5 separate regions of the Homo sapiens genome follow, and regions 2, 3, 4 and 5 are each linked to region 1. Evidence: fine-mapped expression QTL. A gene starts in region 1. Each other region holds a variant in brackets. All regions are shown on one strand. Distances are from middle to middle. Region 1 holds the start of IDUA (alpha-L-iduronidase). Region 2 overlaps TMEM175 (transmembrane protein 175). Region 3 overlaps GAK (cyclin G associated kinase). Region 4 overlaps FGFRL1 (fibroblast growth factor receptor like 1). Region 5 overlaps LOC105374340 (a long non-coding RNA gene).

Region 1 (6,004 bases):
TAGTTGGATTTAATTTGCTGTTAAACCAATTCGTTATCAGCTTTACTGAGATATGATTTACATACAATAAAATGAAGCAAGTTCAAGTGTATCATTCAATAAATTTTTACTAAGTTTCATGAGGTTTTAATATTTTTTTCAATGTTTTCATTTTGAAAAATTTCAAACTCACAGAAAAGTTGCAATAACAGTATATAGTTTTCACCCAGGTTCACCAACTGTTAATATTTTGCTACCTTTGCTTTTATCTCAGTCTCTGTATGTAATCTAAATTTATTGTTTTGCTTTAATTTCCAGAGCAACTTTGGTTACAAATCTATTGATTCTTCACCTCTAAACCCTTCAGCATGGATCACAAATGAACAAAAAATCTCCATTCACAACCGTGATGCAATCATTGAGTCGTTTAATAATTCTGGAGTTTGACCCAGCGCGGTGGCTCATGCCTATAATCCCAGCACTTTGGGAGGCCGAGACAGGTGGATCATTCGAGGTCAGGAGGTCGAGACCAGCCTGGCCAGGATGGTAAAACGCTGTCTCTACTGAAAATACAAAAATTGGCTGGGCGTGGTGGCTCATGCCTGTAATCCCAGCTACTCAGGAGGCTGAGGCAGAGGTTGCAATGAGCTGAGATCGCACCACTGCACTCCAGCCTGGACAACAGAGTGAGACTTCGTTTAAAAAAACAAAAAACAAAAACAAAAAAAATTCTGGAGTTTATCATTGGTAGAATTTTGTTGCACAATGTACAAGGCATATTCCAAATTGTGAATGTCCCCATCATGCACTTTGTAATAATTTTTCCTGACCCGGATCCATTCCAGCACCGTGCAGTGAGGACTTCTGTCTGTTTTTGTTTTGTTTTACCTTCCTCCAGGGAAGGTGTACTTTTCTGTCCACAGGTGTCCCGGTGAGCGGCTCACCTTAATTCTCTCAGGGCTTGAGGTGATTTAAGGCTGGCTTCAGTCCCCACAAAGACAATTCTGTTGCTGGTTTACCTTTGCTTTTAGGGGATAGAACTTTGGGGTCCCAAGAAAAACCCAAAGTCTTTACCAGGCCCCCCGCCTGAGCCTCGACTTCTGTCCTGTGGCCACAGTGTGAGGAACGAACGCAGCAGCGTGTCGCCATGTCTTGTGTGGCTGGGATACGCTGCAGGGGTGTGGAGTCGCCGCCCCAAAGCGGGCCCCGCCCCCTCCCGGCTTGTCCCTGCAGAGCCCCGAGGCCTCAGAGGCTCCTCAGAGCTCCCAGTGCCCTGGACGGTTCCGTTCAGCGCTCTCCAGTTCTGATGGTTGCTCTCAGGAGGCGGCTGGTCTGAAACAATTCAGTTTCCATTGCTGTGTCCTGCACCACGGTGTGGGACTGGTGGTTTCTTACTGTTTTTCTCAGTTCTCTGACGCTTTGAGGAATTGTTTTTAAAGCGAGTTATCCATCATTTTAGTTGTTTTCTCTGGGGTCGTTGGACTGAGGGTCTTACCCCGCTGTTCCTGGAGACAGTTCTGTACTTGCATGGTTTCTCTCGCCTTTCCCTCCCTTTCTTACTTTTTAGTTTCTTAATGAATTTTTTTGTATTATGTTTTTCCTCCTTGCTAATTTGGAATATATACACACTATTTCACTTTTAAATGGCTAATCACTTTTAATGCAATTTCAACATAAGAAGACCTAATGTTAAGCAATATTTTAACCCCTCTCCCCAAAATAAAAAGACCCAGAACACTGTAACTCTAATTATCCTTCTCCCAACTTAGAGAGGATTATTGTCCAGTATTTTCGTTTTGTTAGTAGACTGTTCTTTTTTTCTTTTCTTTTTTTAGAGATGGGGTCTCATTTTGTCAACCAGGCTGGAATGTAGTGGTGTGATCATGGCCCGTCTCAGCCTTGAACTCCTAAGCTCAAGCAATCTCCCACCTCAATTTCGTGGGTAGCTGGGCCTCACAGGCATATACCATCGCATCTGGCTAAATTTTTTTTTTGTACAGATGGGGTCTTGGTACATCTCCCAGGCCGATTTCAAACTCCAGGCCTCAAGTGATCCTCCCGTGTTGGCCTGCAATTCCAAAGTGCTGGGATTGCAGGTGTGAGCCACCGCACCAAGCCTGTTCTTTCCATTATTATTTTTATACAATGTTTGCTTGGATTCACACATGCATACATGGACTACACATGTACTACAGTTGTCCCATGGTATCCTCGGGGTATTGGTTCCAGGACCCTCCCAGATACCAAAATTTGCAGGTGCTCAAGTACTTGATATAAAATGGCACAGTATTTGCACATTACCTACGCACATCCTACTGTGTAGTTTAAATCAAGATTACTTATAGTCCCTAAAACAATGTAAATGCTCTGTAAATAGCTGTTATACTGTATTGTTTTAAAATATGTATTATTTCGTATTGCTTTGGCTTTAAAACAATATTTTCAGTCTGCTTGGTTGAATCCATGGATCTGAAGCCAAGTGTAAGGAGGGCCCAGTGTGCTCTTCTGGGGTAATTCTCCTTCCTGCTAAAGCGCACGCTTTACTCAGGAGGCTGGGGTGAGAAAATCGCTGAAGCCCCGGAGATGGAGGTTGCAGTGAGCTGAGATCGCGCCACTGCACCTCAGCCTGGGCGACAAAGCAAGACTCTGTCTCAAAAACACACAAAAACAGAGAAAAACAAGACAGTAATGGCTCAACTCACATAGCACCAACGGGCGAAGCGTTCTTCTGAGCGCTTTCCGAGTCATCGGTCCTCAGAGCAGCCCCTGAGGCCCGCAAGGAAGCGGGGCTCCAAGCCCTGCCGTGCTCCCGGCTCCCCGAGGCTCCCCGAGGCCACCCAACCCCTCCCACCCGGCCATCGCCCCCTCACCAAGGCCCCGCCCCGCGGCGGCGGTCACATGGGGTGCGCGCCCAGACTCCGACCCGGAGGCGGAACCGGCAGTGCAGCCCGAAGCCCCGCAGTCCCCGAGCACGCGTGGCCATGCGTCCCCTGCGCCCCCGCGCCGCGCTGCTGGCGCTCCTGGCCTCGCTCCTGGCCGCGCCCCCGGTGGCCCCGGCCGAGGCCCCGCACCTGGTGCATGTGGACGCGGCCCGCGCGCTGTGGCCCCTGCGGCGCTTCTGGAGGAGCACAGGCTTCTGGTGAGCGCTCCGCGGCCTCCGGGACCCCCTGGCCGCACGGGGAGAGCTCGGGCGCCCCCTGACTGCGCACTGTGAGAGCTTCAGAGACCGGAGCTCCCTCCTCTGGGGCCCTGGCTCTCCCGGGCCCGCCCCCCGCCGTGTTTGTGGGTGGGTCCTCCACCTGAGTGGGCGCCGGGGCGTGAGCCTGGGCCGCCCCCTGCAGCCCAGGCCGATGCCCGGGATCCTGCTCTTTGAGGTAAACCAGGAGTCTCCCCTGGGAGTGGACGGCCCTGCAGCGGGACCTGGCCTGCCTGTCCCATTCCTTCCACCTAGAGCTGAGGTACCCGCCTTCCTGGCAGGGCCAGGGCCAGGGCTGGCGTTGGCCCCTCGTCTTACTGCTGCTGCCGTTCCCCATGAAGATGGGACCTCCCCACATTCCTGGCCCTAAGGGTCATTTTATTAGTCACTGAACGCACGGGCAGCGCCTGGATCCTGCGCCCGGGCAGTCCTGGGCTTGAACGTGTGTGTCAGCCGCGCTGCCAGCCATGCTGAGGCTCGGGACTGAGCCGCCCCTTTGTTGTCCCCAGCCCCCCGCTGCCACACAGCCAGGCTGACCAGTACGTCCTCAGCTGGGACCAGCAGCTCAACCTCGCCTATGTGGGCGCCGTCCCTCACCGCGGCATCAAGCAGGTCCGGACCCACTGGCTGCTGGAGCTTGTCACCACCAGGTGGGCGGCGGGCAGGGTCTGGGCGTCCCAGAGCCCCTTACAGAGGCACAGATGGGAGGGGAGGGCTGGGGGCTGCTCGGAAGACCCCTTGTTCCCCCACCTCCCGCCGAAGCACCCTGTTGGGGAGAGCGTGTCCTTGCTGGCTGTGCTGGGGTGAGGGCTGTGTGCTGGAGGGAGCCCCTGCATGGGGCACGGTGGGCTTCCTGCAGGTCTCCCTGCAGGCTCAGGGTTGGCTGCGCCGCACCTGGCTCCTGGTGCACCCGTGAGCATCCCTGTGTGTGTCTGCTGGCCAGGCTGGGTAGGGCCACTGCACCTGAGGGCTGAGCTGAGGTCTCATCGGTCACAGCACCCTGGGCCCTGACGCTGGTGCAGGTGGCCACCCTGTGAGGGGGAGGCACGAGGTGTGAGGGGCACTTGGGTGTGTGGGGCCTTCTGGAAACACAGAGACCCTCGTGCACTTGGCCAGAGCCGCTGGCTCCTACCAGCAGGGTGGGCACCGGGCAGGCCTGGGCATAGGGAGTCCTCTTGGCACCTTGGAGGCTGCATGATGGCGGGGGACCCTTGTTCAAATAAGATGTCAACCCTGAGCGTCAGGTCAGGCCCATCCCTCCTGAGCTGAGGGACGGTGCATTGGGGCCCAGCCAGCACTGTGGGCCAGCCTGTCTCGGAGGCAGAGGTTCTTGATTTCTGAGTGTTTGGGTCCTGCGTGTGATCAGAGGGCCTCCTTTCCCAGTTGGGGTTCCCCGGTTTCCCCAGGGCAGCTGTGGCACAAGAGTGCAGCTCTTGGGTGGCTCCTCCCTGGGAAGGGTCTCAGCAGTGGCTTGCAGACGTCTGCTGTGGGTCCCCAGGAGGGAGCAGAGGCTGCTGGGCAGGCCTGGCCCTGCTACAGATGGGCATCGGTGGCCTCCAGCTCCCTGTGGCGGGCTCGTGCTGTCTGCACGGCATCGTGCACACTGAGGAACAGCTGCTCCTCCTCAGCCGTGTCCCCGGGGCCCTCCCCGAGGAAGCCTCCTCTGCTCAGAATGTCTCTCACAGGCGGGCTGCAGCAGGCTAGCAGCAGGCTGATGCCCAGGGCCCCGTAGTCTCGGCGCAGGTCCTGCAGCGTGCTCACACCGGCTGCGTCTAGGAACAGCAGCGGGGCGCAGTCGATGACCACTGTGTGGAAGCCGGCCGCTGCGGGCACCAGCGCAGCCCTGGTGCTAACCGGGCCCAGGTCCTCGCCCTGGGCAGGGCCTCCCTCACCGACCCCCGTCTCTGAGCCCCCCTCCTTCCTCCTGGCAGCCATGCACCCTGCGTCCAGCCCCGTGAGGCTGTAGAGTGACTGCAGGAAGAAGTCCTTGTTGGCATAGTACAGCGGCCCCCCAAAGCGGAACACCCGCACGCCGGGCTCAGGGACGAGGCCCTCGAACTCTGTGGCATCCTCGTAGAAGGCCGTGTCCCCGATGCGGGCCAGCAGGGCGGTGCGTGGGCGTTGGGTGCGGCCGGCCAGGCTGAGCAGCGAGAGGATGACGCCAGCCAGCAGCCCGGCCTCTGTGCTGACCAGCATACAGGTGGCCGCGGTGCCTGCCCAGACCAGCGCGTCAGCCGGGCTCATCCGCCACAGCCGCGGGAGGTCCCACACCTTGCGCAGGGCCCCCCGCAGGCTGACCACGATGACGCAGGCCAGCACGCTTCGCTGTAGGTCGTGGAACAGCGGTGCCAGCGCCAGCAGCACCAGCAGCACCACGGTGGCGCTGACCACGCTGGACAGCTGTGTCCGGCAGCCAGTGGCTGTCTTCACCAGGCTCTTGGCCAGGGCGGCGCTGGTGGCGAAGCAGTGGAGGAAGGCGGGTAGCACGTTGCAGCAGCCCACAGCCAGCAGCTCCTGGTTGGCACGCACAGAGTAGCCGTGACTGCGGGCGAACATCTCCGCCAGCGAGATGGAGAAGGCGGCAGCCACGAGGGCCAGGGCCACGGCATCCAAAGCCACACGCTGCATCAGCCTGGGCTCTGGGACCTGAGGGGGCATGAAACCCGTGGGGATGTCGCCAGCCACGCTCGAGCCAAAGCGCTTGTGGAGCTGCCCGAAGTGCGACACGAGTGTGGCCACCACGATGACCAGCAGCTCCGTGGGCAGCGGCACCCTCAGGCGGTGTCGGTAGCGGTCTGAGAGCTCCTTCGCGGCTAGCAGCACCGCCAG
Region 2 (6,457 bases), 29 kb before region 1:
CCACATCCTCATCAACACCTGCTGTTTTTCAGTTCTCTCCATCCTAGTGGATATGAAGAATCTCGTTGTGGTTTTGATCTGCGAGAGGTCGACCATTTGCATGTTTTGTTTGGAGCAATGTCTGTTCTCATCCTTTGCCCATTTTTAATTGGGTCGTCCTTTTATTTTTGAGTTGTAAGAATTTCAGATAGGGAGATAGACGATAAATTTTAAGACACGGTCTTGCTCTGTCACCCAGGCTGGAGTGCAGTGAGCTGGGTCACCTCTCACTGCAACTCCTGTCTCCCAGGTTCAACAGGCACACACAGTCACACCTGACTAATTTTTTATTTTTCGTAGAGATACAGTCTTACTATGTTGCCCAGGCTGGTCTCGAACTCTTGGGCCCAAGCGATCCACCTGCCTCAGCCCCACAAAGTGCTGGGATTACAGGCATGAGCCACTGTGCTGGCTTAAGAATCCTTTACACTTTTTGGGTACTAGGCCCCATCAGATACATGATCTGCAAAGACCCTCCCTTCTGCCGCAGCCCCTGCTTTGGCACACAGCTTTGTGTGGGTAAGGCCTGGCCTCGGACCCCTGTGGAGGGCACTGACCTGCGGTTTGTCTCCCTGCAGTCTTACCTGCTGATGGTGACTGTCATCCTCCTCCCCTATGTCAGCAAGGTCACCGGCTGGTGCAGAGACAGGCTCCTGGGTAGGTGATGACTGGGTGGGCTGGCCTGAGAGGCCTGTAGTCCGCCCACCTCCGTGCGGCTGCTCCGCACTGAGGGCTGTCCGTGGGCCGAGGCCCGTGTGCGTGGTGGTGGCTGGGGCTCCCCCACTCCGCCCCTCGGGCGTCCCTGTCCTGTCTCCTCTCCTGGCCTGCACATTCCAGGCCTCTTCATGGATGAGGGCGGTGACAGCCACGCGGGCTCTACCTCCACATGGGGGGTTTGGCCAGCTCCACCCTCCTGGCGTGTCCCCAGGCCACAGGGAGCCCTCGGCTCACCCAGTGGAAGTCTTCTCGTTTGACCTCCACGAGCCACTCAGCAAGGAGCGCGTGGAAGCCTTCAGCGACGGAGTCTACGCCATCGTGGCCACGCTTCTCATCCTGGACATCTGGTGAGGACCCCGCGTCACCTGCCCCAGCTATCAGGTGGCCAATGTGTCTTGAGTCCCTGGCGTCTCATCCTGGAAACCCCAGAAAGGCACAGGGGTCTTGGCTCCACCCTCCTCTGGATGCCTAGAGTTTTGTGTGAGGTCAGGGCAGCCCCCACTTCAGGGAGGACAACCTTCCCGGCGGCCCCTCCCTTCCCAGCGGCCCCTCCCTTCCCAGCGGCTCCCACCCCAAGCACAGCCGAGGATGGGGTGCCAGGGTGAGGTCAGCACCAGCAGCCAACTGCTCTCCTCACTCCTCTCAGAGGGGCTCAGCAGCCATGGGTATCCCCCTGCCCCAGGCCTCACCCCTGCCCCAACACCAGCCCCTCCTAGTCCCTAGTCCCTCCCATTCCCTCCGGCTCCCTCCCAGTGCCCCCCATCGCTTCGCAGCCCCTCCTGCTCCCTTTGGCTGGCTGTTGCTTCCTTCCAGCGTCTGCTCCTCCGCGGCCTCATCTGCCTCTTCGTCTGTTAGAGCGCGCGTCTCGTCTCAGTCGTCACGTTTTTGGTTTTTGTGGGGTTTTTTTTTTTTTTTTTTTGAGACAGTCCTGCTGTGTCGCCCAGGCTGGAGTATAGTGGCTCAAGCTCAGCTCACTGCAACCTCCGCCTCCCAGGTTCAAGCAATTCTCCTGCCTCAGCCTCCCAAGTAGTTGGGATTACAAGCACCCACCACCATGCCCAGCTAACTTTTTGCATTTTTAATAGAGATGAGGTTTCACCAAGTTGGCCAGGCTGGTCTTGAACTCCTGACCTCAGGTGATCTGCCCACCTCGGCCTCCCAAAGTGCTGGGATTACAGGTGTAAGCCACCGTGCCCGGCCATCGTAATGTTTGAATTTGCTTTTTTACATCTTCCATCCTTTTGGAGTGTCTTGTTCCCTCGTCATAGTTCAGCACTGTGACCACCTTGGGGTTAGACACTATGGTTTTATATCCTGTACTTGATATTCTCGAGTCCAAGTCTCCTGATGCTCTTCTCTGCTGTCGTGTGCATTTTTAAAAACGGGAAGCAAACGTTCATTGGCATCTGATCTCTAAGGCCCAGGTGCCAGGGATGCTCCAGGGTGAGCTGCCTGATTGTGCAGGCCAGCTGAGGCTCCCCTTGGGAGGGACCTGCCGAAGAGAGGCAGCAGCGTGGGGCCGGGACAGTGACCTCTCCTCCACCTGGAGCCATGGCCAGGGGAGCTGCCCCCTCCCAGCAACTTCCTGCCCTTGCTGCCTCCAGTCTGTCTCCTGCCCCCAACCCCCACCCCTCACCCCTCGCCCTCTGCGTATTGTTCTGGAGGACAGAAGTCTGTCTGGGGCTGCATGAGGACCACTGTCCTTCACTTCCCGATGTTGAAGGACGACACTGTTCCCGGCTTTCTGGGTGGTGCCGTCAGAAGGCAGCAGCCCTGACAAGGGGGTTCCCACAGCCTCCCTGTGGAGGGAGTTGGCCTCCTGAGACCCCCATGTGCATCTGAGAACCGTGGAGGCAAGCCCTCTGCAGATCTTCAGCCAGGGTGTTGTGTGGGTGGCTCCGAGGGCTGGAAGCTGGGAGGGAACAGACCTCGCTGCCCCACAGCAGGCTGGTCCTGCCCAGCAAACACAGGAGAGCCTCGGCCAGAGAGGGCTGCAGCCCAGGGCCCCCAGCAGCACTCTGGGCCAGCAGGGTTGGGCTCCCATTAGCACAGAGCAGAAGGGTGCCAGTTTCTATGGAATTTCAGATGAACAGCACGTAACAGTCAGTGTGCCAAATACACATAAATACGGCGTTCTGAAATTTAGCACACTGGGAAGTCCACATGGTTCATCTGAAAACGTGCCAGATCCAGGCAGCCCTGACAGGCGCTCAGCCACCCTGCTGGGGCCTGTGTGGCCACGGCAAGGCCGGCACAAATGCATCTATTCACTGTTCTCAGCGAAGACAACGTCCCGGACCCCAAGGATGTGAAGGAGAGGTTCAGCGGCAGCCTCGTGGCCGCCCTGAGTGCGACCGGGCCGCGCTTCCTGGCGTACTTCGGCTCCTTCGCCACAGTGGGACTGCTGTGGTTCGCCCACCACTCACTCTTCCTGCATGTGCGCAAGGCCACGCGGGCCA[T/C]GGGGCTGCTGAACACGCTCTCGCTGGCCTTCGTGGGTGGCCTCCCACTAGCCTACCAGCAGACCTCGGCCTTCGCCCGGCAGCCCCGCGATGAGCTGGAGCGCGTGCGTGTCAGCTGCACCATCATCTTCCTGGCCAGCATCTTCCAGCTGGCCATGTGGACCACGGCGCTGCTGCACCAGGCGGAGACGCTGCAGCCCTCGGTGTGGTTTGGCGGCCGGGAGCATGTGCTCATGTTCGCCAAGCTGGCGCTGTACCCCTGTGCCAGCCTGCTGGCCTTCGCCTCCACCTGCCTGCTGAGCAGGTTCAGTGTGGGCATCTTCCACCTCATGCAGATCGCCGTGCCCTGCGCCTTCCTGTTGCTGCGCCTGCTCGTGGGCCTGGCCCTGGCCACCCTGCGGGTCCTGCGGGGCCTCGCCCGGCCCGAACACCCCCCGCCAGCCCCCACGGGCCAGGACGACCCACAGTCCCAGCTCCTCCCTGCCCCCTGCTAGCAGCCACAGAGCCCACTCCCAGCCGTCCTCACCAGAGATGGACCAGGGAGGACAGGATGCTGGGCAGGGGAAGCCAAGTCACGGGCAGGCCGCAGTGGTTCTTGCGTGGCCTGGTTTTATTTTCATTGTGAAATATCATGCTCTTATTTCAGTCCTCAAATTGTTCTCCACTTTTTGCGGAGAGAGGAGTTTCACAGGAACTGGAAATGTGCTTTATGGCATTTGCCTATCCACTCTCTCCAACCTGAAGACACGTTGCCAAGCTCACCTACCCGAGGGGCAGCCCACTCCCAGCCCCTTTGAGGCCTATACAGAGCTGGTGGGGTCGGGGGTGCCAAGCCAGGCCCTCCCCTCCCCTCGGTTGTTGACACAAAGATGAGGAAGAGATGGTAGGATAGTGACGCCCAGACTGTATTTGTCCTGGATATAAATTACTGTTGCATTCAGGCAGCGATAAATACAGAGGGGCCCGGTGTGCAGGGCACAGACCCCACCTGGGTACAGACTCACATACAGGACAAGCCCCTCACCACAGTTACACACGATTCATACAGACCACAGTCCACACCAGGGCTCGCGAAGCAAAACTAATCACAAAGGACTGGTCTTGAAGATGACAATGACGTAAACAAGAGTGCACGCTGGAGGCCACAAGCGGCCTTACAATGCGTGTGTCTGTGCAGTTTGGCAGATGCGGGGGGTCGGGGGATTAGTGGCATCAAGGGCCCCCCAGGAGGCTGCAGCAGGCTGGGCCAGGCCACACTCCTGAGGCCAAACCAGAGCCACTTCTGAGGTCAAAGCCACACCCAGGAAAGCTCCGCAGGATTGGAGGCCCAGGCCAGCTGTGCCCCACAAGGGAAGGGGGAGATCCGCACCGTGGGACCGTTTCTCGTGGGGGAGTCGGGGCTTCCCCACAGAGCGGGCTCCATTTTTGGTCAGACTCCTCCCGGGGCCAGTGCACCATCTGAATCCTTGGGCACGTGGAGGCAGCTTTGTCTTTGGCTGGGTGCACCCCAGCCTGGCCCAGATGCAGGACCCTCCACCAAGCTGTCTGGGGGCGTGGGAGCAGGAGGGCTGCAGGAGCTGGGTCTCCACACGCTGACGAGGGATAGGACTGAGCAGATGTCGGCTCACACAGGCACTGGGAACTGCACATCAACAGCGGGCAAGCAGCGTGGAAAGTGCTAGCGTGGGGTCTGGGGCTGAAAGCCAGCTCCTCCTCCACGTGCATGGGCTGTTTACACCTCCCAAACTCCTCTGCACCGCCATGCCCTGCTTTTGGTCCCTTCTGGGTGCTAAGTGCCCCACCCTGAGGGCCGAGGGGCAGACACTCGGGCCCGGCCCACACTCTGGTGCTGCCAGGGCAGCACCTGAGACCTCCTAGCCTCCACGTGGACAGAGGTTCTCCTCCCCAAGCAGAGGCACTAGGAAAGGGCCACCAGGTCCAGCTGGGCACTGCCTGCCCCTGGAGCTGTACCTGAGATCCAAGCTGCCATCTGTATATAACAAGGCCAGAAAACAAGGGAAGGCACCTTCTCCCTTCCCTGAACACAAGGAAGTCACCAGTCACCACCACCCGGCAGCCTCACACGCTGCCCACACCTGCTGCCCAGGGCGGGGAGGTGAGGCTGGAGGGACTGGCAGCCTGTGTCTGCTGGGGCAGGGACACACCAGGGAGCCTGCTGCTCTTAAGGACTGGCCAGGGGGACGGCCCGAGGGGCACAAAGTGAGATCAGACCCACCTGGACGGCCTGCATCCAGCACTGTCCAGCTCAAGGGGCTCAGTGGGGAGAGGGATGGGTGCCCACCCCTGAGGAGAGGACCAGGCCCCCACAGGGCAGAGGGCTCACCATCCAGAGCCCTGCGCCCACCCGGGACACGGGGTAACACTGCCACCCGCACACCAGTCTCCAGTGGGATGAGGGCTGTGACACCAACATGTGTCACCAATGGGATGAGGGCGGGTCCCGCTCCGTCACTGGGAAGATGCTGTGGTCAGGGCTGTAGCCAGGTCCGACCACAGGGCCGGCCACTGTGTGGACGTGGAGCTGCCTCCAGACCACCTGAAAACAAGGCTGGCGGGAGCAGAGATGGCTCGAGCCCTTGGGCTGCCCCAGCCACCCCTACCTAGGATCGCTCTCAGGGGCAGGCGCAGCATCCGCCCGGGCATCCCTGGTGGTCCCGGCCCTCCTCGGCTTCTGCTTGGCCTTCCTCAGCATGTGCACCTGTCCCAGGGCAGGGGACAGAGGACCAGGGTGACATGGCCGATGAAAGAACGGTACACGGGCAGCCCCCGGTCCTGGGGCCCCGGGCAGCTGATGCCATCTCAGCCCCATTTCACGGAAGGGGAGGGACCTGTCTGGCTGCTCCCTGTGCCACCTGTGGCCCGCCTGGCCACTGGCACAGCCCTCCTCTGAAGCAGGCACCCTCCCGGAGTCAGTGCTCCCTGGCCGCAGCCGGCCATGCCAGCACCACCTGGGTACCACTGGCCACTCCCATGGCCGGCCCAGCCCGGCCCACCTCCCCTGGCTCTCCAGCCTCACCCCACATACCTTAGGGCCAGCAGCTGAGATGATCATGTGCCCCGGGGCCTGGACCCAGGGCTCCCCGTCCACCTGCACCGGGGTGGCCTTGAGGAGCGTGACTCGGAAGTAGGAACCCTGGGCAATCCGGATTCCGGAGCGCAGCCCACCCTGGACCTGGCCCTGGGGCGGGAGAGGCCAGCCGGGCTCAGCGGGGATCAGGGAC
Region 3 (6,457 bases), 63 kb before region 1:
GCCCAGGCTGCGGTGCAGAGGCACAATCCCGGCTCACTGCAACCTCCGCCTCCCGGGTTCAAGCGATTCTCCTGCCTCAGCCTCCCAAGTAGCTGGGACTACAGGCGCCCACCACCACGCCTGGCTAATTTTTGTATTTTTAGTAGAGACGGGGTTTCACCATGTTGGCCAGGATGGTCTCGATCTCCTGACCTCATGATCCCCCTGCCTCGGCCTCCCAAAGTGCTGGGATTACAGGTGTGAGCCACCATGCCCGGCCCCAGATACTATTTTGTTAAAAGGTTAACGTTTATTCTGGATAGTAGGACATAGGTGTTCGTTATGTTACTGTATTTTTCTGCATTTTAAAATATTTCATAATTTTTAAAGATAGTAATATCTGGACTTGATCTCAGGACTTACTACACAGCTAAATTAATCAAGGCTATGTGGTATTGGCAGAGGGACAGATACAAAGATGACTGGAATGGAAAGAAAATCGCAGAAACAGCCACACAAATCAATCCAGGTGATTTCTTCTTCTTTTTCTTTTTTTTTTGAGACGGAGTCTCGCTCTGTCACCCAGGCTGGAGTGCAGTGGCACAATCTCAGTTGACTGTAGCCTCCGCCTCCCAGGTTCAAGCGATTCTCCTGCCTCAGTCTCCCCAGTAGCTGGGACTACAGACGTGCGTCACCACGCCCGGCTAATTTTTGTATTTTTAGTAGAGACGGGGTTTCACTATGTTGCCCAGGTTGGTCTCGAACTCCTGGCTTCAGGTGCCTTGGCCTCCCAAAGTGCTGGGATTACAGGCCTGGGCTACCACGCCCAGCCCATCGAGATGATTTCTGAGGGAGGCACAGAAGCAACTCCATGGAAGATCCACAAATGGTGCCAGACAATGAGCTTCATGTAAATGCCAGCCACATACAGTAATTCACCAAAATAAACACGGACATAAATCTGCAACTGTGAAGGTTTAAAACTTTCAGAAAAACACAGGAGACAAATCTTCAAGATAAAGAGCTAAGAATCCTTAGCTGTGACAAGGCGTGATTCGTAAAAGGAAAAATAAATCAGACTTCACAATGAAAAACTTTGGATCTGCAACAGACCCCGCTTTGTTTGTTTTTTTTTTTTAATTAACTGGTCTGAGTTTGCGTCCAAAAAGATCCTGTTTAGGGGACGAAAGGACAAGCTGCAGACTAGGAACAGATACTTGAAAACCCCATGTCTACGAAGGACTTAAATCTACAATAAAGAACACTCAAAACTTGGTCAAAAAAACATAATTAGGAAGTGGGCAAAAGACATGAACAGACATTTCACCCCTGAAGATATGCAGATGGCAAAGAAGCACTCCCAAGCTATCGGGAAAATGCAAATCAAAACCACAAGGAGGTATCGCTACACATGTATCACAATGATCACAGTAAAAACCACGACGCCAAATGCTGGTGAGTACAAAGAGAAACTCGCTGTTAGGGACTCAACTGTGTGCCCCCAAAATGCATCTGCGGAAGCCCCAGATGACCCTATGCGGAGACGGGCCCTCAAGTAATGAAGGATAAATAAGTTCATACGAGTGGGGCCCTAATCCAATAGGACTGGTGTCCTTATAAGATGAAGACACACCAGAGATGTCAGCATCCCCTCAGCAAAAAGGCAGCATCGGCCGGGCGCGGTGGCTCAGGCCTGTGATCCCAGCACTTTCGGAGGCCGAGGCGGGCAGATCACTTGAGGTCGTGAGTTTGAGACCAACCTGGGAAACATGGTGAAACCCCGTCTCTACTAAAAATACAAAAATCAGCGGCGCATGGTGGTGGGCGCCTGTAGTCCCAGCTACTCAGGAAACTGAGGCAAGAGAACTGCTTGAACCCAGGAGGCAGAGGTTGCAGTGAGCTGAGATTGCGCCACTGCACTCCAGTCTGGGTGACAGAGCGAGACTCCATCTCAAAAAAAAAAAAAAAAAAAAGGCAGCATCTGCAAACCAGCAAAAGAGGCCTCTCCTGGAATCAGCACTGACAGCATCTTGCTCTTGGCCTTCAAGCCTCCAGAACTGCGAGAGTGAATTTCTACTGCTCCCCACTCAGTCTGGAGTATTTTGTTATGGCAGCCTAACCAGGCTGATACGCTCCTACATTGCTGGTGGGAATGTATGGCCACTCAAGAAAACAATCTGGCAGTTTTCTAACAAACTAAACACATAATTACCACACATGAACCAGCAACTGCACTCTTAAACATTTATCCCAGAAATGAAAACGTATATTCACACAAAAACCTATACGCAAGTGTCACAGCAGCTTTATCTGTAGTAGCCAAAACAGGAAACAGCCCAGATGTCCTTCCACGGGTGGCTGGCTGGGCAAGCCGTGCACACTCACGCAGAGGAGTCTCACCACGGGAAACAAGCTACTGACACACAATTACCTGAAGAATTCTGCACTTCCCCTTACACTGCATCCTTCGAATGACAAAATCACAGACAGAGCAAAGACTAGAGGTTTCCAGAGGGTAAGGAAATGGCGTGGCTGAGAGGTGGCATGAGGGCTCCCTACGGGGATGGAGACTTCCACAGCCTCACCTGCACCAGGGTTAGCATCCCGACCGTCACCACTGGGGAAACCAGGCAAGGGTCTAAAATAGAAAAGATCTCCATCTTTTCTCACAGCCGCGTGGGAACCTACAATGAACTCAAAATAATACAGTTTATTTAAAAATAATAGTAACGTATAAGACATTAAAGAATGGCATGTCGGGTACCTCCAAGACCCTGTTATATACATTTTACAGCACACACTCTGCCAATTAAGGAACAGGCACAGGCCAGGCACAGTGGCTGACACCTGCAATCCCAGCACTTTGGGAGGCCGAGGTGGGAGAATCACTTGAGCCCAGGAGTTCTGAGAACAGCCTACAGGCAACATAACAAGACTCCATCTCTACCAGAAATAAATTAAAAATTAGCCAGGCGTGGTGGTGCGTGCCTGTGGTCCCAGCTACCTGGGAGGCTGAGGTGGGAGGATCGCTTGAGTCCGGGAGTTCAAGACTGTGGTGAGCTGTGATCATGCCACTGCACTCCAGCCTGGGCAACAAAGCAAGACCTCATCTCAAGGGCAGGGAGTGGAGGGGTGGGGAGTGGAGGCACAGAGACATCAAATGCTCAAGCCAGGTCAAATCTCAAGGCCCAGGTTCCCTGAGGCAGCCTGGCCTGGGACAGCAGAGTGACCACAGCTAAGGCTTGCCTTCTCTTTCTCACATAAATTATATAAATATATAAACATAAGACCTGTATCCAGAGTAAGCAGAAACTCCCTGCCCAATAAAAAATGGACAAAAAGGCCAGGCGCCGTGGCTCATGCCTGTAATCCCAGCACTTTGGGAGGCCAAGGCCGGCGGGTGACCTGAGGTCAGGAGTTTGAGACCAGCCTGACCAACATAGTGACACCCCATTTCTACTAAAAAATACAAAATTAGCTGGGCATGGTGGTGCATGCCTTTAATCCCAGCTAGTTGGGAGGCTGAGGCAGGAGAATTGTTTGAACCTGGGAGGTGGAGCTTGCCGTGAGCCAAGATGGAGCCACTGCACTCCAGCCTGGGCAAGACTCCCTCT[C/CA]AAAAAAAAAAAAAAAAAAAAATTGCTGAACATCATCATCAGGGAAATTCCAATGAAATCACAATGAGATCGACACCACTGCACACTCACAAGAATGGATGTAATCAAAATGAGAGACCACAAGAAATGCTGGTGAGGAAGTGGAGAGCCAGGAACTCTCCACTGCAGCTGGTGGAAATGTAAAATGGTGCAGCTACCGTGGAAGGAGGTTTGGTTGTTTCATGTGAAGTTCAACCTAAATCCAACCTGTAAATCAGCAATCCTACTCCTTGGTATTTTTTACCCAAGACAAAGAAAAACACACGTCCACAAAAAGACTTGAAAAAAAATGTTCTCGGCACCTTTATTCATAACAGCGGATACGGTTTGGATCTTTATTCATAACAGCGGACACGGTTTGGATCTTTATTCATAACAGCACATACGGTTTGGATCTGCGTCCCCATGCAAATCTCATGTTCACTTGTGACCCTCAATGTTGGAGGAGGGGCCTGGTGGGAGGTGACCGGATTATGGGGCGGAGTTCCCCATGGCGTGGCTGCTCTCAGGATAGTGAGATCTGACTGGGCCATGGGTGTGGAGTTCCTCCCGGGGCTGCTCTCAGGATAGTGAGTGCTCTCCTGTGAGATCTGATTGGGTCGTGGGGGTGGAGTTCCCCCGGGGGGCTGCTCTCAGGATAGTGAGTGCTCTCCTGTGAGATCTGATTGGGTTGTGGTGGTGGAGTTCCCCCAGGGGCTGCTCTCAGGATAGTGAGTGCTCTCCTGTGAGATCTGATTGGGTCATGGGGGTGGAGTTCTGCCCGGGGGCTGCTCTCAGGAGGAGGTTGCCAGGATCTGAGATCACACCCCTGTACTACAGCCTGGGCAACACAACAAGACTCTATCTCAAAAAAATAAGAATAAAAAAATAACAGGCACAGGATATGAATGTGCAATGCCAGAAGGGGAGGCTGAGCAGCAAATAAGCATTACCAAACTCGCTACTCAGAAAGGCACAAATCAAAGCTTGACACTTTTTAAACCCATCAAAATGTCCAAATAAAACAAACCCCCAGGGGACACTCTGAGGACTTGGGACACTAGAGTCTGGTGCCCCCGAGCAGCCTGCAGGCCCCATGAGCAGAGCTGGGCAACCTTCCCCCACACAGCCCACCAGCGTCCATGCAAAGGGCTGAGGACACCTCTCACCAGGATGCGTGTAGGATGCACGGAGCACGCTGGGGACGGGACAGAGTGCCGGGGGACAGTGAGGTCAGTACAGGACCACTACAGGCAGATCTGAGTATCTTTTTTAATCAACTCGGCCTCTTTTAAGAAACAGACACTTTTCTAACGTAAAATACCACATACCAACATTTTCAATACACACATAATTCACAACACTACAGAATGAATCTGTGTCCCCTCCAAAATTCCTGTGTGAAATCCTAATACCCAAGGTGATGGTGTTAGGAGGTGGGGCCTCCTTGGGGGTGACTAGGCCATGAAGGTGGAGCCCTCAGGACTGGGATTACTGCCCCAGAGAGCACTCCCTCACCCCTTCTGCCCTGTGAGGACACAGCGAGAAGGTGCTGGACCTCACCAGACACCAGATCTGCCGGCGCCTTGCGCCTGGACTTCCAGCCTGCAGAGCCGTGAGGAATAAACAAACGTCTGTGGTTTATAGGCCCCCAGTGTACGACGTTCTGTTACAGCAGCACAGACGGACTGGGACACGGGGATGCGCACCCACACAGACAACCATGAGCAATTCACCAGGAGTCCACGGAGTGGAGGAGGAGGAAAGGGGAGTGGCCCAGCCCAACTGTCACCTCCCCCAGTGGTGAGCCCACCCGGGGGTCGTCCCCAACAGTGACCTCCCCGAACGTCTAATTCACCCCAAGGGGGTCCTCCCCCGACAGTGACCTCCCCAAACGTCTAATTCACCCCAGGGGGTCCTCCCTGGACAGTGACCTCCCCGAACGTCTAATTCACCCCAGGGGGTCCTCCCTCGACAGTGACCTCCCCCAATGGTGAGCCCACCCATGGGGTCCTCCCCAAGAGTGACCTCCCTGTATGTTAACAGACAGAAACCACAGAAGTAACACAGGCTTGTTCCTGCCAAGGGTCAGCCGCAGCTGAGCATGAAGTGGTGTTGGCCTGTCACTCTCCGCCCCAACAGCCTCTACTACCTTATATGCTCAGACATCTCCTCCAGGGCACAATGCGCAGAGCAACGGGGGCCAGGACAGGGGCCCTAAGGACACCTCCCTGGGGCTCCCAGCCCCCACTCCACCACTCGACCTCTGGCAAGCAACTAATCTCTGCAAACGTCACTTTTCTCTTCTGCGAGATGGAAGTAATTATAGTACCCACTTTCCAGGGCTACTGTGAGGACCACACAATCCACATAAAGTACTACTGACCATGCTCGGCAAATACGAAGAGCCCCTAAGGGTTGCTGTGGTGGTTCTGACCATTTTTACTTCACGCTGGGAACTAGCCAAAGTGGACAAATGTTGATGATCAAGCTGTCAACTTGGAAGTGAAGGCGGTTGGTACCAGGAGAGCCGCCAGGGGGCAGCTACTCTGTGGCAGAATCTGGGCCTCACAGGCCTGATGACCTAGAACCAACTAACCAAGCCCCAGAGACCCTGCTTACCTGCGCTCCGCACTGCCCCGCACCCCTCCCAGCTCACCTGCGCTCCGCACTGCCCCGCAACCCCCCCCACCCCGCTCACCTGCGCTCCGCACTGCCCCGCACCCCTCCCGGCTCACCAGCGCTCCGCACTGCCCCGCACCCCTCCCCGCTCACCTGCGCTCCGCACTGCCCCGCACCCCTCCCGGCTCACCAGCGCTCCGCACTGCCCCGCACCCCTCCCCGCT
Region 4 (6,457 bases), 40 kb after region 1:
CCCAGGAGCCATGCCCGCGTGCCACGTTCCCACAGAGCGGACCCGTTCCAAGCCCGTGCTCACAGGCACGCACCCCGTGAACACGACGGTGGACTTCGGGGGGACCACGTCCTTCCAGTGCAAGGTGCGCAGCGACGTGAAGCCGGTGATCCAGTGGCTGAAGCGCGTGGAGTACGGCGCCGAGGGCCGCCACAACTCCACCATCGATGTGGGCGGCCAGAAGTTTGTGGTGCTGCCCACGGGTGACGTGTGGTCGCGGCCCGACGGCTCCTACCTCAATAAGCTGCTCATCACCCGTGCCCGCCAGGACGATGCGGGCATGTACATCTGCCTTGGCGCCAACACCATGGGCTACAGCTTCCGCAGCGCCTTCCTCACCGTGCTGCCAGGTGCGCGGCTGCCACGCCACGCCACACCATGCTGGTGCCCGGACCCGCCCCCTGGGCCCGGCGTCCCACCCACCGGGTGGGGCCCCACCCTTCCCTCCCGGGCCGTGCTGGCCAGGTCATCTGCCGAGGGAGGGCAGCCCAGGGGCACCGTCTCCACAGCCCCTGGGATGGGTCTGGGGTGCTCTCCTGGTCTTTGTGTCGGCGTTCCCCTCCCTACCTCCTTTCCTCTCGCTCTTGCAGACCCAAAACCGCCAGGGCCACCTGTGGCCTCCTCGTCCTCGGCCACTAGCCTGCCGTGGCCCGTGGTCATCGGCATCCCAGCCGGCGCTGTCTTCATCCTGGGCACCCTGCTCCTGTGGCTTTGCCAGGCCCAGAAGAAGCCGTGCACCCCCGCGCCTGCCCCTCCCCTGCCTGGGCACCGCCCGCCGGGGACGGCCCGCGACCGCAGCGGAGACAAGGACCTTCCCTCGTTGGCCGCCCTCAGCGCTGGCCCTGGTGTGGGGCTGTGTGAGGAGCATGGGTCTCCGGCAGCCCCCCAGCACTTACTGGGCCCAGGCCCAGTTGCTGGCCCTAAGTTGTACCCCAAACTCTACACAGACATCCACACACACACACACACACACTCTCACACACACTCACACGTGGAGGGCAAGGTCCACCAGCACATCCACTATCAGTGCTAGACGGCACCGTATCTGCAGTGGGCACGGGGGGGCCGGCCAGACAGGCAGACTGGGAGGATGGAGGACGGAGCTGCAGACGAAGGCAGGGGACCCATGGCGAGGAGGAATGGCCAGCACCCCAGGCAGTCTGTGTGTGAGGCATAGCCCCTGGACACACACACACAGACACACACACTGCCTGGATGCATGTATGCACACACATGCGCGCACACGTGCTCCCTGAAGGCACACGTACGCACACACGCACATGCACAGATATGCCGCCTGGGCACACAGATAAGCTGCCCAAATGCACGCACACGCACAGAGACATGCCAGAACATACAAGGACATGCTGCCTGAACATACACACGCACACCCATGCGCAGATGTGCTGCCTGGACACACACACACACACGGATATGCTGTCTGGACGCACACACGTGCAGATATGGTATCCGGACACACACGTGCACAGATATGCTGCCTGGACACACAGATAATGCTGCCTTGACACACACATGCACGGATATTGCCTGGACACACACACACACACGTGTGCACAGATATGCTGTCTGGACACGCACACACATGCAGATATGCTGCCTGGACACACACTTCCAGACACACGTGCACAGGCGCAGATATGCTGCCTGGACACACGCAGATATGCTGTCTAGTCACACACACACGCAGACATGCTGTCCGGACACACACACGCATGCACAGATATGCTGTCCGGACACACACACGCACGCAGATATGCTGCCTGGACACACACACAGATAATGCTGCCTCAACACTCACACACGTGCAGATATTGCCTGGACACACACATGTGCACAGATATGCTGTCTGGACATGCACACACGTGCAGATATGCTGTCCGGATACACACGCACGCACACATGCAGATATGCTGCCTGGGCACACACTTCCGGACACACATGCACACACAGGTGCAGATATGCTGCCTGGACACACGCAGACTGACGTGCTTTTGGGAGGGTGTGCCGTGAAGCCTGCAGTACGTGTGCCGTGAGGCTCATAGTTGATGAGGGACTTTCCCTGCTCCACCGTCACTCCCCCAACTCTGCCCGCCTCTGTCCCCGCCTCAGTCCCCGCCTCCATCCCCGCCTCTGTCCCCTGGCCTTGGCGGCTATTTTTGCCACCTGCCTTGGGTGCCCAGGAGTCCCCTACTGCTGTGGGCTGGGGTTGGGGGCACAGCAGCCCCAAGCCTGAGAGGCTGGAGCCCATGGCTAGTGGCTCATCCCCACTGCATTCTCCCCCTGACACAGAGAAGGGGCCTTGGTATTTATATTTAAGAAATGAAGATAATATTAATAATGATGGAAGGAAGACTGGGTTGCAGGGACTGTGGTCTCTCCTGGGGCCCGGGACCCGCCTGGTCTTTCAGCCATGCTGATGACCACACCCCGTCCAGGCCAGACACCACCCCCCACCCCACTGTCGTGGTGGCCCCAGATCTCTGTAATTTTATGTAGAGTTTGAGCTGAAGCCCCGTATATTTAATTTATTTTGTTAAACATGAAAGTGCATCCTTTCCCTCCAGGCTGGTGTTTCTGCCCATGTCTACATGCACGTGTGCATGCTCGTGTGTGCTCACATTTGTGCCTGTGTGTCAGGCCTGGTCTCCAGAACCAGCAGCCTAACCCTCTTGGAGTCCCCTCGCTGGGCCAGAGCCACAGGGGCTGAGAACTGCACCTCCCGGCGGGAGAGTTTGGGTATACTGGGCTTCGGTGGTGTTGGGCGTGAGCACTGCCCACATGCCTGGCCAGGCCTGCGTCCTGCACCCCTGTCCCAGCGGCGCCCTCTCTGTGTCCTGGGGCTGGCACCTATGGCCCTCAGTGCAGGGCCTGGCCACTCCCCAGCCCCTCCTCAGGCTTTGGTGGGTGGCCCTACAGGAGGCAGCAGACTGGCCTC[A/G]GAGCTGGGGATGGGGCCAGGCTCAGGTCACCTCTGACCTCAGGGCTCCGTCCGAGTGCCCTCCCAGCCACCCTGCGGTGCTGCGACGGTGGCCGACCCCATCTTACCCGGTCAGCAGGAGGGGTGGGGCTGCCAGCTCCACCCGGGGCCCTTGCCTGCCGGGGGTTCCGTTAGCCTCGTAAGAAAAGGCACCGGGGCCCCTCGTGCATTCAGCAAAGCGTGAGGCCCACTGCGTCCCCGGAGCCTGGTCCTGCTGGCGTGCAGCGCGCTTCCTGACCCGCTCTGGTTCTGAGAGCTTTTCCCTGGAGGAAGCTCACCCTGCCTGGCTTCAAAGACGACAGGTGGGCTCTGGGGAGAGGTGTCAGGGACCTCTCCCCAACTGGAGCTTCTGGGGACCCCATGGCTTTCAAGATGTCCCCTTTTTGTTCTCTGTCCTCCCCAGGGTAGACCCTACTTCTCTCCCCTGAGGAAGTCCTGACTCCTTGGACGGTGACAGCTTCAGGCATGGCCCTGGTAAGGGCTGCGTGTGGCTGATGGGTGCTGTGGGAGGCCTGGCCACCCTGACTGGGGGACAGTGGGGGCTCCACGCGGCCCACAGCTGGCAGCCAAACAGATGTTCCCCAGACAGGACAGGCTGCAGGCCGACGCCTGGTCGGGTTTCAGTCTGGAGTAGGGGAGGGTGGAAGGGAGACCTCAGGCGTCTGGCCACCTTGGGCAGCAGGGAGGCCTCAGGCAGCGGGTCATGGGGTTGCAGAGGACAGGCTGCCCCTCCCCAGGGAGTGGGCGGAGGGATGGGCAGTCCGAGAGGGCTGTCCCCTAGAGCCTCTGAAGGAGACACTGGGACCGCAGACCCCACGCCTGCACCCTGCCTGCTGTGAGGTCCAGGCCCCCACTCAGGGCCACCCTTGACTTGTGGTCCAGCCCATCTTGCGCCTGCCCACAGGAGGTGCTGACTAGTGCTGTGTGGTCCTCAACGGACAGGTCTGGCACAGCCTAGCCTCTGGGTCTTGGGCTCTGGACTTTGTCATGCTGTGGCCACGTTGGATGCCAGGCTGGGCAGGGGGACCCCAAGGAGTCAGGACAGACCCATCTCCTGCCTATGGGGCCCCAGCCACCCCCGGGCCAATAGCCTGGAGCTCAGACCCCTCAGTCCTTCCCTAGCCTTCCTCAGGGGCTGCCTGGAGCCCCTGCTTTCTCCCCTGCGACTTCCAGACCCTTCCCCCTTGGCCGTCCAGTCCCGAGAGCCTTGCTCCCGCCCCCACGCCCCTCTGTTCGGCGGTCTCCAGCCTGAGCCTGCCGGGGCCCTGCCCTGTGGACGCCTGGCCTGTGTTCCTGGCTGTCTCTTGCCTGGCCCTGCCCCGTGGACTCCTGTCCCCGTGGCTCCTGTCCCCCCACCAGCCACACGGCCATCCCGATGCCGTTTCCCGCATCTCCGTCACGGCAGCACGCGTCTGTGCCCTGCGCCGGCTCCCTCGTCACATCTGCACGTCCACACTCCCAAGAACAAAATTGCGTTCCCCTCCCCTCCACGTGCAGGAGGCCTGGGAGCACAGAGGCCCCGTGTGCTTCGAGGACTTGAGGCAGGAGGCGGGCAGAGGCGCCCAGGGCGTGAGTGTGGCCAGCAGGACAGAGGGCAGGACTGCGCTTCTGACAGTGGTCTGCTCCGGCCAAGCACCTGAAAGATGGGGAGCCCTTCACCCCAGGCTCACTGGCCAGGAGGCTCGAAGGGCCGGGTGGGGCTTGTGGGAGGTGGGGGTGCCGCTCTGTGGGCCCCGTCTCACCTGTCCTGCCCGGGTCACCTGCACACCATTGCACCATGGGGGCTCCAGGCCCAGGAAGAGACCGACACACACGCGTCGGGAGGCTCCTTGGGGGCCAGCGGGCTTCTGGGCAATGCCCTTGCAGGGGTGGGGCTGGGGCATGGAATCTGAGGGGCAGGGCGACCGAGGGGGCCCAGGGAGAAGGGAGGAGCCCAGAGTGGCAGCCGTCTCCCCAGGGAGGGGCTGCACCTGGGGCTTCCTGGCTCTTCCACTGTCACCCTTCACGTGGGCAAGACCAGGTCCCATGCCCTTGGCCACCACAGGAAGGTCATGGGGCAGCTCGTGCTGTGGGGACGGGAACAGGGCTGGGCACCCGTCCCTGGCTCTGTCCTGGGCTGCTGGTGGTGTGGGTTGTAGTGGTGGGGGTTGCAGCCCAGGAGTCAACGGAGGGGACCTGGCTGTGTCCTCAGGGCGGCCCCCAGGCCAGGCCCTTTGGGTACGAGATGGTGGTGCCCGGGGGAGGCTCAGCATGGCGGGGCAGGGTGTGGGCACGGGGCCAGGCCCATGGTCCTCCCTGGCCCTGTCCTGGTGGTGATAAGCTGCTTCCCTGTAAAGCCCGGCTAACTTGAAAGTGCTGCCCAGGCTCCAACACCCCCGGGTGTGACCCGCCCCCGCCCGGCCCTCCTGGCTTCAAAGGGGTGCCCATAAGCCGCCTGCAGCTGTCCCGGGGGTGCCTGCGTCTGCTGCCAGGGACAGGGTGGCAGCATGAGGCAGAGATAGGGGATGTGGGCAGCCCCACCCAATGGGCCCGTGGGTCAGAGGACCTGGCCAGAGATCACAGCCTTGTCCCAGGCCGAGGCTGGGGGCTGGGGGACCGGGTCAGGAACGTGGGACGAGGAGCACAGATGGGGCCCAAGCCAGGAAGAGGGGTGCAGGCCAGGAAGAGGGGTCCAGGCTGTGTGCTCGGGGTGCACGATGGGACTCCCCGCACAGCAGAGATCCGGCCCTGGGACACAAGGCTCCAGGACGCAGGGACCAGCCAAGCCTCCCTGGGGCACTGTGTGGGCCCCGGACCTGCTGTGGGGCTGGGGTTTGCCAGGGGTCCCCCAGGATTTGAACATGGGAGCACCTCCTGGAGGCAGAGGCAGGGAGGCCACAGGGCCAAGTGTGTGGGGCACTGGGCCCCTCGGGCTGGGCTGGGACAGTCCCCCTCCCATGGCTGGAGCTAGCTTCTGGTAGGAGAAGCTTCCAGATGTCCCGGGGGACAAGAGTGCTGGGTGGAGCCACGCTGGGTGAGGCGGGGCAGGGACGCGGTGGGCGGGGCCTGGTGGTCTCGGGCTCTCTGTGCCCTGTGCTGGCCTCACAGTGTGCCCGGCCCAGGTGGCTGCCTGGGTTGGGGAAGGGGCTCTCCTGGGGGCTGGTGGGGCCTGGCGGGTCCTGGGCCTCAGCCACACAAGACCCAGGCCTGTGTTCCAGGGCTCTGGGTTGCCGATGAATTTTAGGTTTGCATTGCAGTGCCTGAGGAGAGACGCCAGTCCCTGAGAAACACCGGCTCTGCCCAGGGGCCGCACTCGCCACCGTTGGCCTCCTCTGCTCGGCCTGTCTCTCCCTTGCCTCTGCCTTGGGAGGAGTGTGGCCAGCGAGGGGATGCAGGTGGGTCTCCCCGGAAGGCTCCCGCCACTGTGCTGGCAGCTGCATGCTG
Region 5 (6,029 bases), 150 kb before region 1:
AGCCACGCACATTGGACGTGCCAGCACGAGACAGCCCGGGGCAGGAGTGGTCACAGCGTGGGACCTGCCTGGATGCGGCGTGGATGCGGCCCCCCGGGTGAGGCCTGGGTGGGACTCCCCTTGCCACCCCTCCACTCCTTCCCTAGAACAGAGGAAGGTCACGGAAGCGTCCCCTGGGCTTGTGGCTGTGGTGCTGGGATGGCTTTGGGGCTTGTGTCTGGGAGGTCAGAATACCCGGCAGGGGCCAGAGACGGCAGGGCTGAGGAACGCTGTGGGTGAGGGGACAGATGGGACACAGAGAGACCAGGGTCTTGGGTAGAAAGTGCTGGAGCCAAGGCTGAAAGTGCAAAGGGGCCCCTGGGGGCTCTGCAGAGCAAGCGAGAGGCAGGCAGAGCCAGGGGCGGGAAGTCCAGTGGTGGGGTCTGCCGTGCCCTGGACACCGCCCAGGAGAGGCCCCGGGTTGCAGACCAGAGACCCCAGAGTGGCTTCTTGTGGTTCCCTGGAGTGGGGTGGGCTGCCCTCTCCTGAGGTCCCAAGGAGGCAGGCAGGGCCCTGCCGACGCCCCAGCCCTGACCCCTGTGCAGGCCGGGCTGTGGGTCTGGACACCCCCTGGGCTCCAGCAGCCACAGCCACTGTCCAGGGCAGTCCAGCCACACCCCACCCTTCTCTCCCATCGATTCCCACCCAGGACAGCTCTGACCCCGCCCCAACCAGGCACCCACTGCAGCTCGCCTGCGGTAGGACAGTCGGGGTCTGCTGCCACCTGGGGCTTCTGGGGGGACGTGGAGTCCTCAGCCCCCGGCTCGGGTCATCCTGCTGCAGTGGCAGTCGGGCGTGGTCTGTTTCTGAGAAGATGGTGTTTGAGGCAGGAAGCCGAGGGGGACGGAGCAGAGAGGGCTGCCACAGCTGCAGAACCAGCAGATGCCTTGCAGGCACTGAGGGCAGGTGTGGCCGGCACCTAGCGGGTGCAGCTGGGTGCGGAGGGCACAAGGAGAAGGCTCGGAAGTGCCACAGCCGCCTGATTTCTGGCCGCAGTCCAACCAGGCCGGCTGATAAGAGAATTCCAAACCTGCCTGAGAGCTCGGCAGCCCTCCTGCTGTTCACAGGCCGGGTCCCAACAGCAAATGACTCCCCAGCCCCGGCTGTGCCACTGCCAGGAAGTTGCCGAGAGGCCAGAGGTAGACAAGGCAGGGCCGCAGCGTGCCCCGCGGAGCCCTTCAGGCCACGGCCGCACGCGGCATCCTTGGGCTGAGAGTCCCCAGCTCACATCACCGGGGGCCCCTCAGGACATTCAGGGGCCAAGACAGCTTTGGCAGCTCCCACTCCTCTCCCAGTGGCCTCTGGGCTCAGACACCCGGACTGCGTCCTCAGGAGTGGAGCTCCCCGAGGAAAGAGTGCCTTTGCTTCCCTTGACGTGTCCTGCACTTTGTGTCAGCCAGCGCGGCAGCAAGAACGAGCACACGGGGACAGAAGCTCATCTGAACCTGCCGGCCCGTGTCGGTGTCCAGCGCGGAGGCGCTGTGTCCGCAGGGCACCTGCATCCTCATAAGCTGGACTGACTGCCGTGGGGCCCGGTGCCCCATGTCCAGTGCATCCCAGACTAGAACAAAGACTTGCACACGGCGTCCACCACAGCACAAGCCACAGCAGCCACGGGGGAGGCAGCCACGGGGGAGGCCGCCCAGCGCCATCGGCAGAGCACAGACACGCAAACTGTGGTCCCGCCACACGTGGACCTTGATTCCGCTTCAAGAGGAATGAGGCTGTGGCACAGGCCGTGGCGTGGACAAGCCTTGAAGACGGCATGTCAGTGAGAGAAGCCGGACACAAAGGCCTCGAGGTGCACGCTTCTGTTTATAGGGAACGTCCGGACAGGCAAATCCGCAGAGACAGAAATGCGACTGCAGCTGCTGAGGCTGGGGAGCATGCGGGGGACTGGGATGGCGTCTCCTTGAGAGGTGACAGGAACGCTCTGGAGCCAGAGAGCGGCGACGGTGGCTGCATGGCAGCATGAATGCGCTTAACCGCCGCTGAATCGTACACTTCGAAACAGTCCGCTTTATGTTACGTGGATTTCATTTCAACAAACAGCAAACAACCCCTTCAGGGCTTCTACTAGGAAAATAAATTTGAATAGATTTATCAACTACGTTTTGAGCTGCCCCAATGGACATGAATAAAGCTGCATTCTTTAAGCATTAAAAGAAAAAAAAATGGGGGCAGCTCTGGTGGCAGCTGCGAGCCGTGAGGGCCCCAGGTCCCTCCCAGCACACTGCCTGGGGCAGCCCCTTCCTGCACTCAGTCCTGGCCAGGCCGGCGGGGGCTGCTCCGGCCCCTAGCACTGAGAACCACGTGTGTGTCCCAGAAGTGGTGCTGCACTCGGGAAGGACAGGCCTGGCCCCTCGCCGGCAGCGTGGCCTTGGGAGGCTGCGTCACTCTCAGGCCTTGGCTTCGTTCCCCGGCAGAGGGGCCTCCCGGGGCTGGGCCAGCTCCCGACCCGCTTGGGAGGCTGCAGTTTCCCGAGTCCTCTGCCCACACCAGTGTCTCTCGCACAGCCCATCAGCCGCCCACCGCAGCAGGTGGCTGAGCGTCCCTCTGCTCCCAGACCCCTGGCCCCAGCCATCCTCCCTTCCCTCTGCTCCTGGTGCCCACAGGCCTGGCCACCACAGAACTGTGTCTTCCCCTGGGTCCTGGCTGTCCTCGGCCTCCACCGCAGCCAAGGAGGGGACCAGGAAGGCCCAGCCACCTGAAGGGGACAGGCAGAGGGCAGAGGACAGCAATGACTGTGACCCCATGAACCCGCCAGCTCAGGGTGGCATGTGGCCCCTGCAGCCATTGTGTCATGAACAAGCTGTAGTTCAGCCACCAACTATTTTGCCCACATTCCCAGCTCAAGTTACCTACAGACTGATAAGTGCCATTGTCAGGGAGGCATTGTCTGTCCTTGTCAGGGAGGAGAGCATGGGAATAGAGCCATGTGGCCCACTACTCCTGACTCCCCCTCCTCCAGGCACCATTGCACCCTGTGGACCTGGGAATGCAGCCCCCTGCCCACACTGAACCCCAGAAAGGAGTGTCTGGGCTGGGTTCAGAAGTGACCCCCACCCTGAATCTCTCCTCTGTGCCTTTGCCCTGAGCATGCTGCTCCTTCCTTCATCCAAGCCCTTCTCATCCTCCTCCAGGAAGCCCCCCCGACCACCTCCTCCCCACCTGACCTTCTGCTACAGGGATAAGAGAAGGGTGAACCTGGAACCGAGGCAGGATGACTAGGATGGCTGGGTGGGGCCCACTCTGAGGCTGAGAGGACAGTCAGATGGGGGTGGAAACCAATGGGTGGGGACTGTATACTATGAGGTAAGGGCTTTTCCTTTCTTTCTGTGGGTGTCCAATTCCAGTACTCTTTGTTGGAAAAGCTTTTCTTTCCCCCATTGACTTCTTTGGGACTCCTGTCAAAAATCAATGGACCATGGCTATGTAGGTCTATTTCTAGACTCTGTTTTTTCCATTGATCTGTGTATTATCCTTATGCAATAGCACCACATCTTCCCTGCTGTAGCTTTACAGCGGGTCCTGGAAGCAGGTAGTTA[A/C]GTACTTCAACTTTGTCCTTTTTCAAAATGCTTTCTGCTTTTCTAGGTTTGCTGCATTTCCATATACATTTTAGAATCAGCTGGTTGGTTTCTATGGAAAGGTCTGATGGAATCTGGGATTGCATTGAATGCATAGATTGGTTTGGGGAGAATTGACTTCTTAATATGAGTCTTCTAATCCATGAACATGGTATGCCCCTTCATTTATTTAGTTCTATTTAAATTTCAACAAAACTGGCCAGGCTTTGTGGCTCAAGCCTGTAATCCCAGCACTTTGGGAGGCCGAGGAGGGGAGATCACCTAAGGCCAGGAGTTCGAGACCAGCCTGGCCAACATGATGAAATCCCGTCTCTACTAAACATACAAAAATTAGCCAGGCATGGTGGCAGGCACCTGTAATCCCAGCTACTCAGGAGGCTGAGGCAGCAGAATTGCTTGAACCTGGGAGGGGGAGGTTGCACTGAGCTGAGATCTCGCCACTGCACTCCAGCCTGGGACAGAGCAAGACTTGGTCTCAAAAAAAAAAAATTTAACAAAATTTGCAGGATTTTTATTTTTATTTTTGCAGCAATAATTTTATGAGTAAATAGGTTTTGCAGATATTCATGAAAATTATCTGAAAGTGTTTCATGGTTGTGATGTTATTGTAAGTGGTATTTTTTATTTCTATTTCCAACTTTTCACTACTATTACATAGGCACAAAAATGATTTTTTCTTTTTTCTTATTGACTTCATTTTAAGATATTTACCTTGTTTTCCACAAAATTGATTTTTGATATTGCCTTTGTATCCTGCAAGCTTGCTATGCTTGCTTAGTAGTTCTAGTTATATATTTTGTAGGTTCCTCAGGATTTTCTAAACAAGCCTAGTCATCGTGTACGTGTCTAAAAACAGTTTTCCTTTTCCTTTCCATTCTCTATGCCTTTCCCCTATTATTGGCTGGGATCAGTCCTCTGGTACAATGCTGAAGAGATGATGAGATAGATATCCTTGCCTTTTTCTCAGGGGAAGCATTCATTCTTTTGCCATTAAGTATGATGGTAGCTGCAGGCTTTTCAGAGGTGCCCTTCCTTGGGTTAAGGAAATTCCCTTCTATCCTTAGTTTGCTATGAGTTTGTTTGTTTGAGATGGAATTTCACTCTTCTTGCCCAGGCTGGAGAGCAATGTTGTGATCTCGGCTCACTGCAACCTCCACCTCCCAGGTTCAAGTGATTCTCCTGCCTCAGCCTCTGGAGTAGCTGGAATTACAGGCGCTCACCATCACACCCGGCTAATTTTTTGTATTTTTAGTAGAGACAGGGTTTCACCATGTTGGCCAGGATGGTCTCGAACTCCTGACCTCGGGTGACCACCCACCTCAGCCTCTCCAAGTGCTGGGATTACAGGCATGAGCCATTGTGCCTGGCCTGCTATGAGTTTTGGTCTTTGTTTTCTGTTGTTATAACAGAAGACTAGAGGCTGGGTAATTTGTAAAGAAAAGAGGTTAATTTGGCTCACAATTTTGGCAGCTGAGAAATTCACGATTGGGCAGCTTCATCTAGTGAAGGCCTCAGGCTGCTTCCACTCATGGCCAAAAGCAGAAGGGCAGCCAGCATGTGCAGAGATCACATGGCAAGAGTGGAGAGAGAAACAGATGGATGGGGTGGGGAAGACTCTTGCAGTAGACTCTTTTTAACAACCCTTTAGGAAGGCATTAATATATTTATAAGGGATCTGCCCCGATGACCCAAACACCTCCCACTAGGCCCCACCTCCTGACACTACCACACTGGGAACCAAATTTCAACATGAGTTTTGGTGAGCACAAACCACATCCAAACTATAGCGGTTTTTACCACAAATAGTTCAGTTTTGTAAAATGCTTTATCTGTATCTATTGGGATGACCTCATGAGTTTTCTCCTTTATTCGGTTAATGTGGTGAATTACATTGACTCATTTTATTCAGTGTTTATGTATTTTATTTTGTTATGAATTTTGCAGTTCCCAGATAAAACACTATTTTCCACTGACTCATTTTTGAACGTTAAGTGAATGTTACATTCCTGGATACAATCCCCCCCCCACCTTCTATATATTGTTGAATCCAATTTGATTGCATTTTGTTAAACATTTTTGCATCTGTGTTCATTCCTGAGAGACACTGGACTGGCCTGTAGGTTTCTTTCTTTGTAATGTCTTTGTCTGGTTTTGGTATCAGTAGAATGCTGACTTCATAGACTAAGTTGGGAAGTATGTCTTCCTCCTCTGTTCTCTGAATGAGTTTGTATAGATTTGGTATTACTATTTCCTTGAAAGTTTGATAGATTTCAAAGTAAACCTGTCTGGAGTTTTTTAATCTTTGTTGTTGTTGTTTTGAGAAGGTTTTTAATTATAAGTTCCATTTATTTGATATAGTCCTATTCTGATATTTCAAAATTTCTTTATAAGTCAGTTTTGGTA

What was found. PIP is the estimated chance that this variant, and not a neighbour inherited with it, causes the effect.
Region 2: its variant is fine-mapped to the expression of IDUA in whole blood (INTERVAL, PIP 0.94).
Region 3: its variant is fine-mapped to the expression of IDUA in whole blood (INTERVAL, PIP above 0.99).
Region 4: its variant is fine-mapped to the expression of IDUA in breast (GTEx, PIP 0.96).
Region 5: its variant is fine-mapped to the expression of IDUA in whole blood (TOPMed, PIP above 0.99). The same link has a PIP of 0.9 or more in T cells.

What each region holds. Positions count from the first base shown.
Region 1 is chr4:984,125-990,128 of GRCh38, forward strand. It overlaps IDUA (alpha-L-iduronidase), which reads left to right and starts at 2,920. Exons shown (of 14, transcript NM_000203.5): 1 at 2,920-3,118; 2 at 3,685-3,825. The coding sequence starts at 2,961. It overlaps SLC26A1 (solute carrier family 26 member 1), which reads right to left. Exons shown (of 3, transcript NM_022042.4): 3 at 3,533-6,004. The coding sequence ends at 4,709. RefSeq lists enhancers at 1,282-1,331, 2,507-2,566, 5,147-5,648, 5,649-6,004 and silencers at 2,777-3,426, 3,209-3,386.
Region 2 is chr4:954,788-961,244 of GRCh38, forward strand. TMEM175 (transmembrane protein 175) reads left to right here. Exons shown (of 11, transcript NM_032326.4): 9 at 618-696; 10 at 968-1,103; 11 at 3,037-3,869. The coding sequence ends at 3,709. DGKQ (diacylglycerol kinase theta) reads right to left here. Exons shown (of 23, transcript NM_001347.4): 22 at 6,262-6,414; 23 at 4,100-5,934. The coding sequence ends at 5,833. Among named protein-coding and RNA genes, the nearest start is that of DGKQ, 16 kb to the right of the region's middle. The variant T/C (reference allele first, on the strand shown) is at 3,216.
Region 3 is chr4:920,583-927,039 of GRCh38, forward strand. The region is part of intron 1 of GAK (cyclin G associated kinase); the gene reads right to left. Among named protein-coding and RNA genes, the nearest start is that of GAK, 8.5 kb to the right of the region's middle. RefSeq lists an enhancer at 1,187-1,296. The variant C/CA (reference allele first, on the strand shown) is at 3,594.
Region 4 is chr4:1,024,276-1,030,732 of GRCh38, forward strand. FGFRL1 (fibroblast growth factor receptor like 1) reads left to right here. Exons shown (of 7, transcript NM_001004356.3): 6 at 36-389; 7 at 630-2,623. The coding sequence ends at 1,072. Among named protein-coding and RNA genes, the nearest start is that of FGFRL1, 16 kb to the left of the region's middle. RefSeq lists enhancers at 1,470-1,971, 1,972-2,471. The variant A/G (reference allele first, on the strand shown) is at 2,996.
Region 5 is chr4:834,477-840,505 of GRCh38, forward strand. LOC105374340 (a long non-coding RNA gene) reads right to left here. Exons shown (of 4, transcript XR_925033.3): 4 at 5,534-6,029. Among named protein-coding and RNA genes, the nearest start is that of CPLX1, 11 kb to the left of the region's middle. The variant A/C (reference allele first, on the strand shown) is at 3,588.